Regions from separate parts of the Homo sapiens genome. Here region 1 is linked to region 2. The links come from fine-mapping of genetic effects on gene expression. Tissue or cell type: whole blood. Region 2 holds a variant in brackets; the other region holds the start of a gene. All regions are shown on one strand. Distances are from middle to middle.

Region 1 (8,189 bases), 19 kb before region 2:
TTCTTTAAGCTACTGTTACTTTGAGCTTTTTAACTGCTACAGAAATCAATCCCTGTATGAAAATATATAGTTTAGGATAATTTTCTGGTGGCAGTAATAGGAATCATTCAAAGCTATGTAAAGCAAAAAAGGGAGAATTATTTTAAGGACAGAAGGATTTCTCACAGAACCTATGGGAAGGGATGAAGGAAGCCTCAGTAATAGAGCGATAGCTGGAATTAAAAAGTAAGGGGAGGCCAGGAAGCCCTCTCACTGTGTCTCATCTCTCCTTCTCTTCCTTCTTACTGAAAATTATTTACACAGTTGTCACAGAGAAGCTACAAATAAATATTTGTTTGATGGATGGCAATTTGTGTGTGTGATAAACTGGATCTAAAGTCAATTCTCAAAACGTTTTGTTATATATATGTAGCTTGTTAAAGTGATTCTTTTGAAGGGGGGAATCATACTTTTTAGAGTCTAAGCTCTCTCTTAAACCCTTTCTCTCAGCTTTCCAATTTTTCCCAGTCACTTATTCCAACATCAGAAAGGGGGCCTGAAATACAGGATTGTCCATAATTAATATCATGACAGACACTTTTGAGATTGCTCTGCTTTTTTACAGGAGTTGCAAAAGTCAGTTTTTATGAGAACACAAGCACTGGCACTCACTGACTATTTTGGCAGACAAGGAAATGATAGATTAATTACTTTTGGTACATTTTTCCCATAACTGTCTTTTTTTTCCATTTCATTTTTGCATTGTTACTATTTACCAGTCTGAGTTCTCACTTACACCTAGTTTTTGCCCTTCAGGGTTTCTTATATTCTTGCCAACTCTTTGATATGCTTGATAAGATGTTTTATATATATTTATATATATTGCTTTGGGTTTGAGAATCAGCCAGAGCCTCTAGTCTGCCATACTACTGGACACAAAAGTTCAATATGTTTTCACTTCATTCGTTTATAAGATATTAACCTGCATTCCAAACACCAGGGCCCTAACTCTGGTGGCCTAAGCTCCCCATCCACAAAAATGAAGAATAACTACCTTTCCACCTGCATCAAATTGTTTTTTGTACAAGACTCATGTAATCATTAACATGAAGTCAGTTTGCAACTGGAAAATACCATGAAAATACATTTTCTTAACTCTGAAAACAAAACAGAGGCAAACAAGTAATAAAAGTTATAACTAAGGGTAACAACCTTAGAATGGTTTGTTCAATTTACAATGTCTATATATTTGCACTCATCTGCTTTTTTTCTGGCCCAAGGTATAAATGAGAAAGTCTTAAGATAAAAAAAAAGCAATATTATTTTATACGTTATATTTGACACTAATTGTATAATTTACATTTTTAAAAAATAAAGAGAAAAAAATAAAGAGAAAAAGGCAACCTTGAGCACACTATAAAATCTTTCACTCTTTTTTTTTTTTTTTTGAGATGGAGTCTCACTCTTGTCACCCAGGCTGGAGTGCAATGGCGCGATCGGCTCACTGCAACCTCTGCCTCCCGAGTTCAAGTGATTCAAGGTTCAAGTGATTCTCCTGCCTCAGCCTCCCGAGTAGCTGGGATTACAGGTGCCAGCCACCATGCCCGACTAATTTTTTATGTTTTTGGTAGAAATGGGGTTTCACCATGTTGGCCAGACTAGTCTTGAACTCCTGACCTCAGGTGATCTGCCCACCTCAGCCTCCCAAAGTGCTGTGATTACAGGTGTGAGCCACCGCGTGCGGCCTTTTGTTTTGTTCTTTTGAGACAGGGTGTCACTCTGTCGCCCAGGCTGGAGTGCAGTGGCGTGATTTCGGCTCACTGCAGCCTCCGCCTCCCGGGTTCAAGTGATTCTCCCACCTCAGCCTTCCAAGTAGCTGGGACTACAGGTGTGTGCCACCATGCACAGCTGATTTTTTTTTTTTTTTTTGGTAGAGATGGGGATTCACCACGTTGGCCAGGCTGGTCTCGAACTCCTTACCTCAAGGATCTGCCCACCTTGGCTTCCCAAAGTGCTGGGATTACAGGCATGAGCCACCGTGCCCATCCAAATCTTTCACATTTTTAAATTTTGTGAAATAGCTGTCCTTTTTATATATGGGTAAGCTATCAAACTTAAGATGCTCACAGCCCTTTACATACTTTGTAGGCTGAGATTCTGAGTGTCTAATATTCTGTAATGTATCTTGGTCTCTGTGCTGCAAGAACACTGAAGTATTATTATAGGTAACAATCTATATCACTCTTCTCAAACAGCGCTAACAGGTTAAGTATTCAAGAGGAACATCTTTCAGTATATTTCAAAAAGCCTCATGGATGGTAGGTGATTTGTAAATGGACCAACGCAGGACTCAGGCATATATGGTTACTGCTTACTATTTCCTATAGATCATGATGTCTTAGGTCTTATGTAGAATATATCATAGGACTTGTCCTCTAAACATTCACATACCAAGACTGCACTCTGCATGCATGCCATTCACTCATTCTGCATTTACTGAGTCAGTCCTACTGCATGTCAGACCTTGTGCCTGTTCTCAAGAAGCTCGCAGTCCAGGAAAATGGAGAAATACAGATACAATTATAACTCTATGTGATAAGTGTTACAAAGAGATACGGTGTTATGGAAGCCCTGGTAGGGGCACTTAGCCCATACTGGAGTGGCTGGGATAGGGCTGAGTGGCCAACAATAGGGAAGGGTTCACAGTGGAATTGATGTCTAGGCTAAATAATGAATAACAAATAATTAGCAAGGCAAGGAAAAGGTAGGAGATCAAGACATAAAAATAAACAGCATATGGAAATACAGGGTTGTATGTGAGTACGGCAAGACTGGGGAGCCTAAGTGGTTTGCTGTATATTTAATTTATTCATTTCACGTAGCTACTATTGACATACTTGTCTCCCTATATATGTTTGAGTCCGTGGATGGTGGGGACTTTGTAATGGTTTCTCTGTCCCTATGTCTAACAGGAGGCACACAGATGGAGTGCAATAAAATGTCTGATGAATAAATGACCAGCTATGAGGTGTAAGGGAGAATAGGAATCCATTAATGAGAAAGGTCATTTCTAGTGGCAATGAATATCAGATAAGATAGATTTAAGAATTATTTAGAAATTAGGATGAATAAGACTTGGTGATATATTGGCGATGGGGTATAAAATAAGAAACACTGGCTTTCTAGGTTTCTGGATTACAGATGCATGATAATAGTTATAATGGTATAATAACAATAGCTAATATTTATTAGGCACTCTGTGTCATGAAGTACGCAAAGTGTTTACATGAATTAAGCCATTTAAACTCTTAATGACTCAGTGAGGCAGGTTCTGTATACTCATTCACTGATGAGAAAATTGGGGCTAGAGAGATTCATTTGCCTAAGGTCACTCAGCTAGCAGGTGGCAGGCTCAAGCCCAGTAATTCTGACTCCAACAACCATACATATAGTCTACTTTTCTTTACTGCCTCTAATAGATGAGATTAATACCCAGAATGATGGTCCTATTCAATAAGTGTATCACACAAATGCACGTTTCTCTTTTGCTAAACATAGAGACACATACTATGACTACCTCTATTATTATTATTTTTTTTTGATTTTTGGGATCTTGGCTCTTTCTGTATTTTTCCTACCTGGAAGACCTAAAGTGGGGTAGAAGTTTGATAAAACAGTTGGCACAAAAGATGAGAGAAGACAGGTACAGACATGACATTCTCGAACGCTCTGGCAGTTGCTGGAATGATGGGATCTGGGTTCTACAGGATTCCTCCCCTCCCATCTCCCGCCACACACACACACGTCGTAAGGTGTATATGGCCGCGGAGTCTCAGGTTGGTTCTAGGAGTCCTCAACCCACGGCAAAGGTGCCTCTTCTCCCTCCTGGAGAGCCCAACATGCTTGAAGTTAACCTGAGGCCGCCTCTCGGGCCCGGCGAAACAGAGCGCGGGCCCGACGAAACAGAGCGCGGGCCCGACGAAACAGAGCGCAGCTCCGGCTCGCGCTGGTTCCCAGGGAAACCGCCCGCGGAGGAACCTCGGGCCAGGGCCGTGACACCTGCGACGAGCCCCGCCTGGCGCCAGGGGGCGCGGAAGCGCGTCCGCCCCCAGGCCCCATGCCGGGCTCGCCCCGCCCCTGCCGGCCACACCCCCCTACCCCGCCCTCCCTCCGTGAGGACCGGCCGCTCCCGGCTCCCGGCCCCCGGCCCCGCTTCCGGCGCAGGCGCAGTCCCGCGTTCCCTCGGCGGCTGCCGGCGTAGTGAGCCCGCCGCCGTGGAGTGTAGCGGAAAGGGCTCGCCGTCCTCCTCCGTTTCTCGCTGCTTCGGGACGCGCTCTCTGCGGCTCTGTGAGCGCCCCTGAGCGCCGGCAGCGGCCGCGGTGGGTTCTTCAGGTGAGTGCGGCCGCGGGAGGGAGAGGCCCGGAGCGTAGAGCACCGCCCCCCTCGGCGCCCGCGCGCCCGCCTCTGGCGAGTCGGCCAGGAGGGGCGGCCGCGGCAGGTGCAGGTGCTGGCGCCGTGCAGGGCGCGGCACGCGGGGGTTCGGGGGGATGCCCAGGCCCGGTGAGCTCGCTCTCCGCCTGGGCACTTGGGCTCCGGGCCCTTGGGGGCGGCGTGTGGGGGGGACTTTGGCGACCCGGGTCAGCCGGCCGCCCCCTGGGCTGCTGGTGGGCGTCGGGCGGCGGCTCCTCCCCCGGGCACGGGCGCGTTACACATTAACTGCGCGGTCCCGCGCGCCCGGGGCAGGGAGCCCGAGTCCAGCGGGTTACCTGGCGGCGGGCGGGCGCGGCCGGGAGCGGAGGGCCGCGGTCGCGAAGAGGATGAAGAGAGAGTTCCCGAACAAGTCGGAAGCAGCTCACAACACCGGACGCCGCGCGGCAGGGCTGTGGACCTGGGGTGGTTTCGTGTCCCAGTCTTAGGAAACTACGCGCGAGGCACCGTGCTGAGGCGTAGAGGTCACCCTCGGGAGGTTTCGGTGAAACCTGGTGGGAAATTCCGGGCAGGCGCCCGGAGTCGCGCCCAAGTAGGCAGCTCCGTGCCGCCAGACTTGTGTTCGGGGGAGTTGAGACGAACTGCACGGGTGGGATTGCATGGCTCTGCCCTCCCAGCGTTGACAACTCGCCCCGACCGCCCAGGAAGCGCGAGCTTACTGGCTCCAGAAGTGATGATGCTGGGTGGAAGTCGCAGCATGTGAAGAGTTGCCGGTTGTTATGGGATTAAAAAAGATGAAAGGGTAAGGTCTTGAAAGACACGAGCGCTGAGTTAGTTAGTACTGATTACTGAGAGGCAATTTAGTTTCATGGAAATGTTGCCTGTTCGGAGGCTACCTGTTATACACTCTCCTGTTTCACCCCAACTCCTTCCGTTCAGTGTCGGGTTAAAAGCCTTGTAATCTCTTGCAGTGGAATGATTGCATAATTGGAGGAGGGGCCCATAAGAGGATTACAACAAAACTGTTCCATTGTAAATCAGTTGAAAGACCCAGTTCTTGTTCATTATCCTTTTTCTCATTTTGTTGTTCATGAAGGTTTTTTTTTCTTCCAGTGCTGAATGACAAATCAAGGAGAAAAGAGGCAGAATAGGGTTGTAGACCAATCGTAGTAAATATTTGATACTGTTAAATATTTCACCAGTTTTATGGGGCCTTGTTCTGTTATCATTTGTTATTTATTTACTAGTACTGTGCATTTTGATAGGACTTTTCATGTTTGGACAGACAGTGTATTCCAGATGCGGCTTATGTGATCTAATCCTAAAGCCCTTGTGGAATTTATAGAAATAAACAGTTATACAATTAAGTAGTCCATTTTTTAACTATTAAATGAAAAGCCATTGCATTTTTTTCCATTACAGTAATGTTACATATTAATGTATACCTTTGTGAACCAAAGTGTTTGATACAACTCTTCCTTCTGTGTTTGGTAAACAACTCATCTGTGGTACTGAATACTTGTAATCTTTCACCAGGATGGCCATTTAATGTTTAGCTGCTTTGTGGGATTTCTGAATAGATCCTATTGTACTTTTTGAATTAGTGCAGTTATCCATATGTTTCCTTTAATATTCTTTACCTTTGATTTTGTCTAAACTCTCATCCTCCCCCAACACACACATCCTCTACAAATAATTTTTAAAATGGAAAGGTTCTTAGAAATGTTTCACCCCCTCATTTTTTAAATATGGCACGAAAAAATACTTTGTAGATTACAGTAGTTTTATATGCATTATAGTAGTTACTATACTTTTTTCCTCCTCAACAGGAGTCAGTGAACAAATTAGTGAGCTGGCTGAATGAAAAATTATTTAATGTTCAGCTCCATCACTTACTGTGCATAAAACCTTGAGTAAAACATTTAACCTGTTTGAGCTTATTTTCTCCATTTGTCAGTGGAAATACTATTAGGTTGAAATTGCTAATATTCTGCTGTTTTTTATGTTTCAACCTAATATGAACTTCATAATGGTAAGATGAGGATTTAATAACATACTCCATTAGAGATGTGGGGAAGGGGAGAAGGAACCAGTGTGAGCTTGATTGTGTGCAAGGCACTGTGTGTGCTTGTTTTCGATACCTTGACTCCTCAGTCCTCTGGACATTCCCGGGATATAGGTGGTTTATCAAATTTTACAAGTCAGGAAATGGAGGCTTAGAAAGTTGCGATAATTTGTCTATGGTTACTTAGTTGTAGGTGGTCGTACAGCTGGCCAGTGACAGAGCCGGTATTAAAAACTGTATCCGACTGCCCAAAATGGAACGTAGTGCTTTTGTTTCTTACATTCCTGGTCTGCACCTTCTATTAAAGAGCTTTGTAACTATAAGGAGGCACACAGATGACAAGTGTTACCATTTGTATTTCTGGTTTAAAAATATCCAAGTTTTCTGAAGACGGTGATACCAGCATTGCTACTACAGTTACTTTTAAGTCTAGTGCTTATCAAGCGAAGTCCTGGTGTAAGCTTTATACTCATTTACTCTCAGAGTGAGCGAGGAGATAATACTTTATCCCTATTTTGTAGTTGAGAAAATTGAGACCCTGAGACCTTATGTAGTTTGCTCAACGTCACATAGTTAATTAAGTGACAGGTCTAGATTAGATGTCAGACAGTTTGTCTTCCATGTCTGTGCTCTTAACCACTACACTCTGTCATTTCTTCATGTATAAGTGGTAATGCTAAAGAATTGTTTGCTCATAATCACTACATTATCACTTCTTTATGTGTAGCTTATAATGCTGAAGAACTTTGTAATTTAGCTTTTATGAGATACGTAATGTTAATGTAATATGTAATTCTCATTGTGTCACCAGAGATTTTTTTAAATCAAATACTCATTGAGCATCTACTCTGCAAGTCACAGTAGGGGTTAAAGGAAACTGTTCTTAAGGAATATGGAAGGTAGGGCCTTATAATCATTCCCATATCTTTTATAAGTTCTTCAAAATGTAGAACGCACTTTACATATTTTAATGAATGTCAACTAAGACAAAGTGCTAGGATAGTTGAGTAGTGGAGAGGAAGGACAGATGGATAGTGGGTAGAGATATTTGTGCATTGAGGTAATGAGGGAAAGCTTTGAAGATATTCCAAGGGAGTACGCTTTTTCACACTAAACTTTTTTCCGATATAATTCTGATTAAGATGCAGTTCATCAAAGGATAGTAAATTGGTTACTACGCATTTGATATCCTAAAAACAAAATATCTGAGCTTTTGTAAACTGCTTTCTAGCTTGTTTCTCCTTTTTTATGCTACTATCCTTAGTTGTACCAGATGGTACTCTTTTTAAAAATTTTATGCTTTTATAATACTGAGTACCTCTTTTTTGGTATTTATGAACTTTGATATTTGTGTTGTATTTGTAATTGTTTCTAGGGCCCTAGAAACATGTTTATTGGCAAGGTGGTCTCTTCCTCTAGTCTACAAGTGCTTCGAGAGTAGGGCTTACCTCATTTTATAGCTTTAACATCGGGCCAGGTAAGTACTGTGCTGTGTTTGGTGATGGATGATCAGTTGAAGAATGTTAGGATGTTTTGAAGCTGCTCTAGCAGTAGAAATTGAAATGAACATTGAGAAATGAAGGGACAAAGGAAGGAAGAGGAAGATATTTATACAACTGGGAGCATTAACTTGCTATCTCTATTTTCCCTTCTGCTTTCCTTTTCAACTTACCACTAAATGAGGTAGTTTTATAAGCTTACATCGTACATAGTCATG
Region 2 (8,189 bases):
GGGGCTAGTGTTATCCCCATTCTAATCTCATCAGAGGAGAAATTTAAGGCTTATAGAAATGAAACACATTATCCAGGATTGGATCCTGTACATATAAAGGATATTATTGGAACAATTAGTGAAATTTGAATGGGGCCTGTTGATTAGATGGTAATTTTAATCAATGTTAACTTCCAGATTTTGATGATGATTTTGTGGTTAGATAGAATGTCCTTGTACTTAGGATACACACACACATACACAGATACACGGGCACACACACACACACACACACACACACTGTGTATATGTATACATTGAGATATTAAGTGGGCATCATGTCTGAAACATTCTTAAATGACTCAAAAATATTAACAATTTCATAATCTGGGTGACAGGTATGAGAGAGTATGTGTGTGTCTTTACCGCCTTTCTACTTACTCTAACCAAGGTCATGTATAATCAGAAAGTTAAATATAAATTCAAGAGATCTATGGTACAGCAGGATGACTGTAGTTCCTGACGATATATTGTAAATTCTTGAAAAATGCAGAGAGTAAATGTTGAGTTTTCTCATAACAAAATAATGGCATGAGGTAACGCATTCGTTAATTAGCTAGTTAGCTATTTCACAATGTGTATGTGCCTTCAAACATGTTGTACATGATAAATACAATGTTCTCTGTTAAAAAAATTGTTTTAAGAGTTTCACAGCATAATATAATTGTTATTGAGTCTAAGATTGCATAATACTGTTAGATTTTGTTTTTAGTATTTTCATATTTAAATAGTATACTGAGATAATTTATTTTAATATGAACATTTAATAATTTTAAAATATTTTTAAAAATTAAGCCAATTTTTATTCATTCCTCATACTAATTGATTATTCTCACTTTAACAGCATTGCTTATCACTTTCAGGTTTCTTCTAAATCAGATTGTTTGCCTTTTGTAGTAGTTATACTGTGAGATCGCTTAGTAAATGTTAAGTGATTGTGGTGTTTTGTTTTTGTTTTTGTTTTTTGAGTGGGAGAAGGTCTTGCCCTGTCACCCAGGCTGGAGTGCAGGGTTGTGATCACGGCTCACTGCAACCTGCATTTGGGCTCAAGCAATCCTCCCACCTCATCTTCCCGAGTAGCTGGTACTACAGGCATATACCACCATGTGATTGTGGTTTTTTAAAAAAAGCCTCTTTTATTGTAAGCTTATAATTTACAATGGACTGTTAAACACATTTTATAATTTATGCATTTTAATTTAGTTTTAAATGTTATTATCTAAAAATAAGTATCTGCTTTTTGTTTTAACATAGGTTATCTTATGATGAGGCTTTTGCTATGGCTAATGATCCCTTGGAAGGCTTCCATGAAGTAAACCTTGCTTCACCTACTTCTCCGGACCTTCTTGGTGTGTATGAATCAGGAACTCAAGAGCAGACTACCTCACCAAGTGTCATCTACCGGCCACACCCTTCAGCTTTATCCTCTGTACCTATCCAGGCAAATGCATTAGATGTTTCTGAACTTCCTACACAACCCGTGTATTCATCCCCCAGACGTTTAAATTGTGCGGAAATATCTAGTATCAGGTAGGAAATAAGTAAATCACTTATTTGATTTTTTTTAAAATGGACAGTTTGCTTAGTTACTATATTTTAAGTTTTACTATTTTTAGAAAATTTGAATAACTTAAGTGTGCCTAGGTAAAGAAATACATGACCTGATAATGTTCTAGAACAGGGTTGACAAACTTTATATGTGAAGGACCAGATAGTAAATATTTTAGGCTTTGCAAGCCATGCAGTCTCTGTTGCAACTATTCAACTCTGCCTTTAGAGTTTGAAAGCAGCCATAGACAGTATGTAAATGAATGAGAGTGGTTGTGTTCCAATAAAACTTCATATATGGATGCAGAATTTTGAATTTCATTTAATTTTCATGTGTCACAAAATATTCTTTTAAAGATTTCTTTTCAACTATTTGAAATTGTAAAAACTATACTTGGCTCATTGATACCTTATAAAAACGGGTGGAAGGCTTGGTTTAGCCTGTAGGCTATAGTTTGTTAACCCCTGCTCTTGAGTAGCACTGTCCTGTAGAACTTTCTGTGTTGATGAAAATGTTCTATTTCTGTGCTATCTAATATGAATGATAGGTATTAACCACATGTAGCTATTGAGCACTTGAAATGTGGCTGATATGACTGAGGACATACTATTTATTTAAATATAGAAGCTACCAAATTGGGTAGTACAGTTCTAGAGCTGTGTGTTTAAGCCAGTTCTATTGGAGCATATGCTGATATTTTCTGAAAAATGTCTCTCTCCTTTACAGCTTTCATGTTACAGACCCAGCCCCTTGCTCTACCTCTGGAGTCACAGCTGGATTAACTAAATTAACTACAAGAAAGGACAACTATAATGCAGAGAGAGAGTTTTTACAGGGTGCTACTATAACAGAGGCTTGCGATGGCAGTGATGATATTTTTGGGTTGAGTACTGATAGTCTGTCTCGTTTACGAAGCCCATCTGTTTTGGAAGTTAGAGAAAAGGGCTATGAACGATTAAAAGAAGAACTCGCAAAAGCTCAGAGGGTAAGAAAGAAGATATTTTATTCTTCCATATATTATATTAGAAATTAGTATTTCTCCATGGGGTGGGGCAACCTGCAGAAATGAAATCATGATGGTTGTACATTTATCCGTCACATATGCCCAGCCTCAGCTCCTGTTAGGCAGCATTTAGGAATCCGTGAAACTGGTTGGGTAGTAAAGAAGTTCCTCTAAGACTACTAACTGGAAAAATGTGGCTCTGTTAACTCTTCTGTGCCCCACTGCATTGCCTGCTCCCTGTCTCGTATTATCTGTAATGCAGATTGAGTGGGCTATATTCCACATGCAGGGTTTTTCCTTCTTACTACATGGCTGACTAAATGGTTATTTACTTGAAGTCACTCAGTCTAAGTCATTTTGTTTTGAGTTTAAGCTGAGTTTGAATATTTTCTGTATCTTACCTTGGAGAATTTTCTTGGTAAATTGTTGTGTTTCCCATTTGGTCATTTTAAAAGTTTCTGCTATTTATTTCCAAACTTGTGGCCATATCTTATTCTTTTTCTGAGTCTGCAGTTAAATTTCAGAGGAAAATTTATAGAATGAAATGCATACATCAGAAAACAGGAAAAGTCTCAAATGGACAATCTAAGCTCCCACTTTAAGAATCTGTAAAAAGAAGAGCAAAATAAAACCAGAGCAAGTAGAAGGAAGGAAATAATAAAGAGCAAAAATCAATGAAATTGATAACAGAAAAAATAGAGAAAATGAGTGAGACAAAATGTTGGTTCTTTAAGAAGATTAATAAAATTGCAAACCTCTAGCAAGACTGACAAAAAGAAGACAGATTTATCAGTAGCAGGAGTGAAATGCAGGATGTCACTGGAGACTCATATCAAAAGTATAATGGAATGATATGAAAAACTGCATATATAAACCTGACAACCTAGGTGAAATACCAATTCACATGTAGAAAATTGAGAAGGTAGGGCAAACATTTATAGGTGTAATATCCAACCTACCATGACATTTCACAAATGTATTCCCACTCTTTCCCTAGCATACTTGTCTCTCATGAGCGTAGTATATTCATTTTTTTAATCCCCAGTTCCTTCCCAAAGGAAAAGGATGTGGTGAGATGTGGTTGCATTTTGTTTCTGTCATCTGGCTCAGACTTTGTTGTCTTAATAGATAGTATTTTATTAAAATCACACATTATATAGAGGTAAAATTTTGAGTATATGTATCCATCTTTGAGAACACATGGTTATTGATCAGAACAGATTGCTAATTTCTTAGCTCACTTGAGAATTTCCTTTGAAATCTCTAATATGCTGTATTTAGAGATACTGTTTGGATAATTGAAATGGTGATGTGTAAACACATATGTGGTGACTTTTATGAAGAGTATAAGTTAGTATTAATATTTACTTAGATCTCAAGGCTTGAAAAGGACTCTTGAATATAAAAATACTTCCTGAATTGTGACAACTTGTGAATCAAACTATGTCAACAGCCATTTTCTTTAGTCTTATCTTAAGAGAGGCCATTTTCTATACTTTTTACTTACTTGGTTAACTGTGTCTTCCTATTTAATACGAGTTTCTTATAGATAGTGTACAGTTAGGTCTTGTTCTTTTGATCCTTTGTAATTATCTCTGTCTTTTAATTGGTGTTTAGACCATTTACATTTAATGGATAATGGTATAGTTTGGTTTAAATTTACCATCTTACTGTTTGTTTTCTGTTTGTCTCATTTGTTCCTTTTTCCCTTTTGTATCCTTTCTTTTGAATTAATTCTGTATTTTTAAAACAATTTCATCTTCCTGTGGCTTTTATCTTTGTTGCTTTAGCGTTTATAGTAGACATATTTAACTTATCACTCTCTACCTTCCGGTGATATATTACTTTACATCTGGTGTACAAACCTTACAAAAGTATACTTTTATTTTTCCCCTCCTAGTTTTTGTGCAATAATTGTTGTATGTTTCACTTCTTTGTGTGTTTAAACCCCACAAAACACTATTGTTTTGCATTAAACAGTATTATCTTTTAAAGAGACTTAAATAATAACAAAGAATCTTTACATAGATAAACATCAGAAATGTTAGCTACATGGGCATCTGTGTGTTCATTCCTTTTTTTTTTTTTTTTTTTTTTTTTACAAGTTTTACTTTTATTTTTGAATGATAGTTTAACGGGGCATACAATTCTAGGTTGATGGTTGTTTTTTTTTTTCTCAACAAACACTTTCATAATTTTACGTCTTTGTCTTCCGGCATCTATCATTGTTGATGAGAAGCCAGCTGTCAATGTAGTTGTCATTCCTTTGTAGATAATTGGTTTTCTTCCTCCTTCTGGTCACTTCTAAG[AT/A]TTTTTTTTTTTAATTGATCATTCTTGGGTGTTTCTCGCAGAGGGGGATTTGGCAGGGTCATAGGACAATAGTGGAGGGAAGGTCAGCAGATAAACAAGTGAACAAAGGTCTCTGGTTTTCCTAGGCAGAGGACCCTGCGGCCTTCCGCAGTGTTTGTGTCCCTGGGTACTTGAGATTAGGGAGTGGTGATGACTCTTAACGAGCGTGCTGCCTTCAAGCATCTGTTTAACAAAGCACATCTTGCACCGCCCTTAATCCATTTAACCCTGAGTGGACACAGCACATGTTTCAGAGAGCACAGGGTTGGGGGTAAGGTCATAGATCAACAGCATCCCAAGGCAGAAGAATTTTTCTTAGTACAGAACAAAATGAAGTCTCCTATGTCTACTTCTTTCTACACAGACACAGCAACAATCTGATTTCTCTATCTTTTCCCCACCTTTCCCCCTTTTCTATTCCACAAAACCGCCATCGTCATCATGGCCCGTTCTCAATGAGCTGTTGGGTACACCTCCCAGACGGGGTGGTGGCCGGGCAGAGGAGCTCCTCACTTCCCAGAAGGGGCGGCCGGGCAGAGGCGCCTCCGACCTCCCGGACGGGGCGGCGGCCGGGCGGAGGCGCCCCCCACCTCCCTCCTGGACGGGGCGGCTGGCTGGGCGGGGGCTGAACCCCCACCTCCCGGACGGGGCGGCTGGCCGGGCAGGGGCTGACCCCCCACCTCCCTCCCGGACGGGGCGGCTGCCGGGCGGGGGCTGACCCCCCACCTCCCTCCCGGATGGGGCGGCTGGCCGGGCGGGGGCTGACCTCCCACCTCCCTCCCGGACGGGGCGGCTGCCGGGCGGAGGGGCTCCTCACTTCTCAGACGGGGCTGCCGGGCAGAGACGCTCCTCACCTCCCAGACGGGGTCGCGGCTGGACAGAGGCGCTCCCCACATCTCAGACGATGGGTGGCCGGGCAGAGACGCTCCTCACTTCCCAGACGGGGTGGCGGCCGGGCAGAGGCTGCAATCTCGTCACTTTGGGAGGCCAAGGCAGGCGGCTGGGAGGTGGAGGTTGTAGCTAGCCGAGATCATGCCACTGCACTCCAGCCTGGGCAACATTGAGCCCTGAGTGAATGAGACTCCGTCTGCAATCCCGGCACCTCGGGAGGCCGAGGCTGGCGGATCACTCACGGTTAGGAGCTGGAGACCAGCCCGGCCAACACAGCGAAACCCCGTCTCCACCAAAAAAATACGAAAACCAGTCAGGCGTGGCGGCGTGCGCCTGCAATAGCAGGCACTCGGCAGGCTGAGGCAGGAGAATCAGGCAGGGAGGTTGCAGTGAGCCAAGATGGCAGCAGTACAGTCCAGCTTTGGCTCGGCATCAGAGGGAGACCGTGGAAAGAGAGGGCGAGGGAGACCGTGGGGAGAGGGAGAGGGAGACTGTGGGGAGAGGGAGAGGGAGAGGGAGAGCCTCCAACTCTCCTCTTGCTCAGGATCCGTTTGGGGACTTGCTCTGTGTGTTCATTCCTTTGGTATTCATTTCTTCATGTGGATCCAGATTTCCAACTCGTATCATTTTTCCTTTGGCTTGAAGGACATCCTTTTACATTTTTGTTGTGCATGTTTGATGGTGATAAATTCTTTTAGCTTTTGTATGTCTGTGTTCATTTTTGGTTTTTGAAAGATATTTTCACTGAGTAAAGAATTTAAGATTGATAATTTTTTTTTTTTTGTTACTGTAAAGATGTTGCTTCAGTGTTTTCAAGCATGTACATTGTTTCTCACAAGAAGTCTGCTGTTACCCTTACCTTTGTTCCTCTGCGTATTAGGTCTTTTCTCTCTGGCTGCTTATGAGAGTCCTCTCTCACTGGCATAAGCAATGTGATTGTGATTTGCTTTGGTGTAGTTTCTTCAGCTTTCTTATGTTTGGGATTTATTGAGCTTCTTGAAGCTGTAGGTTGTTAGTTTTCATAAAATTTGGGAAATTTTGGCCTTTATATCTTCAAAAAGTTTTCCATTCTTCCTCTCTCTCTCCTTTCCTCTGGATTCCTATTACATGTACATTAGACTGCTTAAACTTATCTCACAGCTTGCTGGTGTTACAGTCTTTCATTTAAAAATCTTTTTTTCCTCACTGTGTTTCATTGTGGGTAGTTTCTATTGCTATGTCTTCAAAGTCACTACTCTTTTCTTCTGAAATATCTAATCTGTTAATCCCATACAGTATGTTTTTAAACTAGACATTGTAGTTTTCATCTCTGAAAGTTTGATTTGGATCTTTTTTATACTTTGCTTGCTCTGCTTAATATGTTGGGATGCAGTTTAATAAATGTTTTGTTTCTAATTATTTCATCTCTTCAGATAATAAGCTGGGGCAGATCTGGGGTGCACATTTTGTTTTTCATTTCTAGGGGATCACTGTCTTTTATTGCCTAATATCAAATGCTTCAAATTGTTGATCCATATATTTTTTCAGAGTTTTAGTTGTGTCAGATGGGTGGTAAATCTAATCCCTGTTCCTCTATCTTAATTGGAAGTGAAAGTTCTACTTACTCATTTATATTACTTCATTGTCTACCCCATTCAAGTAATCCACATAGAAAAACCTGCATTTATACACACATGCTTCAGTACTTCTGAGATTCATGAGGATAAGGATTGCATATGTTTGTGCTCATGATTATATCTTGAGCATATAATGGGTTTTCAATACATTTTGTTGATTAAATGAATATATACATGTATATGCGGTTATACAAGTGTTTGTATACACACATGCCTGATATATTAGGGTGATGCTTATAAGTAACCCCCAAATTTTCGTGACTTTACCTAATAGAAGTTCATTTTTATTCATTTAACACTCTGAAGCAGATGTTCATAGTTGGTAGGCAGTTCTCTGTGAAATAATTCAGAGATCTGTTTCTCTTCTGTTTGGGGCCTTTGTAATTTCTTAGGGTTTTATTGTTATTTGTATCTAACCAATGAGACAAAAGGGAAAGACAGCTTAGAGAAGGTACAGCTTCTTCTAAAAAACCTTGGCTTAGATATGATACACATCACTTTTGCTCACATTCTATTGGTGTGAACCTTTCATGCCAATACCTAGATGTATGGTGGGCTGGGTAATGTAATCCCTGGATGGACAACCACTTCCCAGCAACAAATCCATACTGTGTGTGTAGGGGGACCAATCATGTGGTCACTTATTTTCAGGTGCAGGGATGCCAGAGATTATGATGTAGTCATTTAGCTGTTTGGCCTTCCATAGGATATTTCTGAAGAGCAGCTTTTAGTGGAATTCTCA

What was found. PIP is the estimated chance that this variant, and not a neighbour inherited with it, causes the effect.
Region 1: RAB3IP starts here. The variant in region 2 is fine-mapped to the expression of RAB3IP in whole blood (INTERVAL, PIP above 0.99). The same link has a PIP of 0.9 or more in neutrophils.

The regions. Positions count from the first base shown.
Region 1 is chr12:69,734,661-69,742,849 of GRCh38, forward strand. It overlaps RAB3IP (RAB3A interacting protein), which reads left to right and starts at 4,200. Exons shown (of 11, transcript NM_022456.5): 1 at 4,200-4,371. It overlaps LOC101928002 (a long non-coding RNA gene), which reads right to left and starts at 3,890. Exons shown (of 4, transcript NR_110072.2): 1 at 3,618-3,890. RefSeq lists a silencer at 3,948-4,777.
Region 2 is chr12:69,754,091-69,762,279 of GRCh38, forward strand. RAB3IP (RAB3A interacting protein) reads left to right here. Exons shown (of 11, transcript NM_022456.5): 2 at 1,294-1,569; 3 at 2,315-2,573. The coding sequence starts at 1,319. Among named protein-coding and RNA genes, the nearest start is that of RAB3IP, 19 kb to the left of the region's middle. RefSeq lists an enhancer at 5,433-6,024. The variant AT/A (reference allele first, on the strand shown) is at 4,901.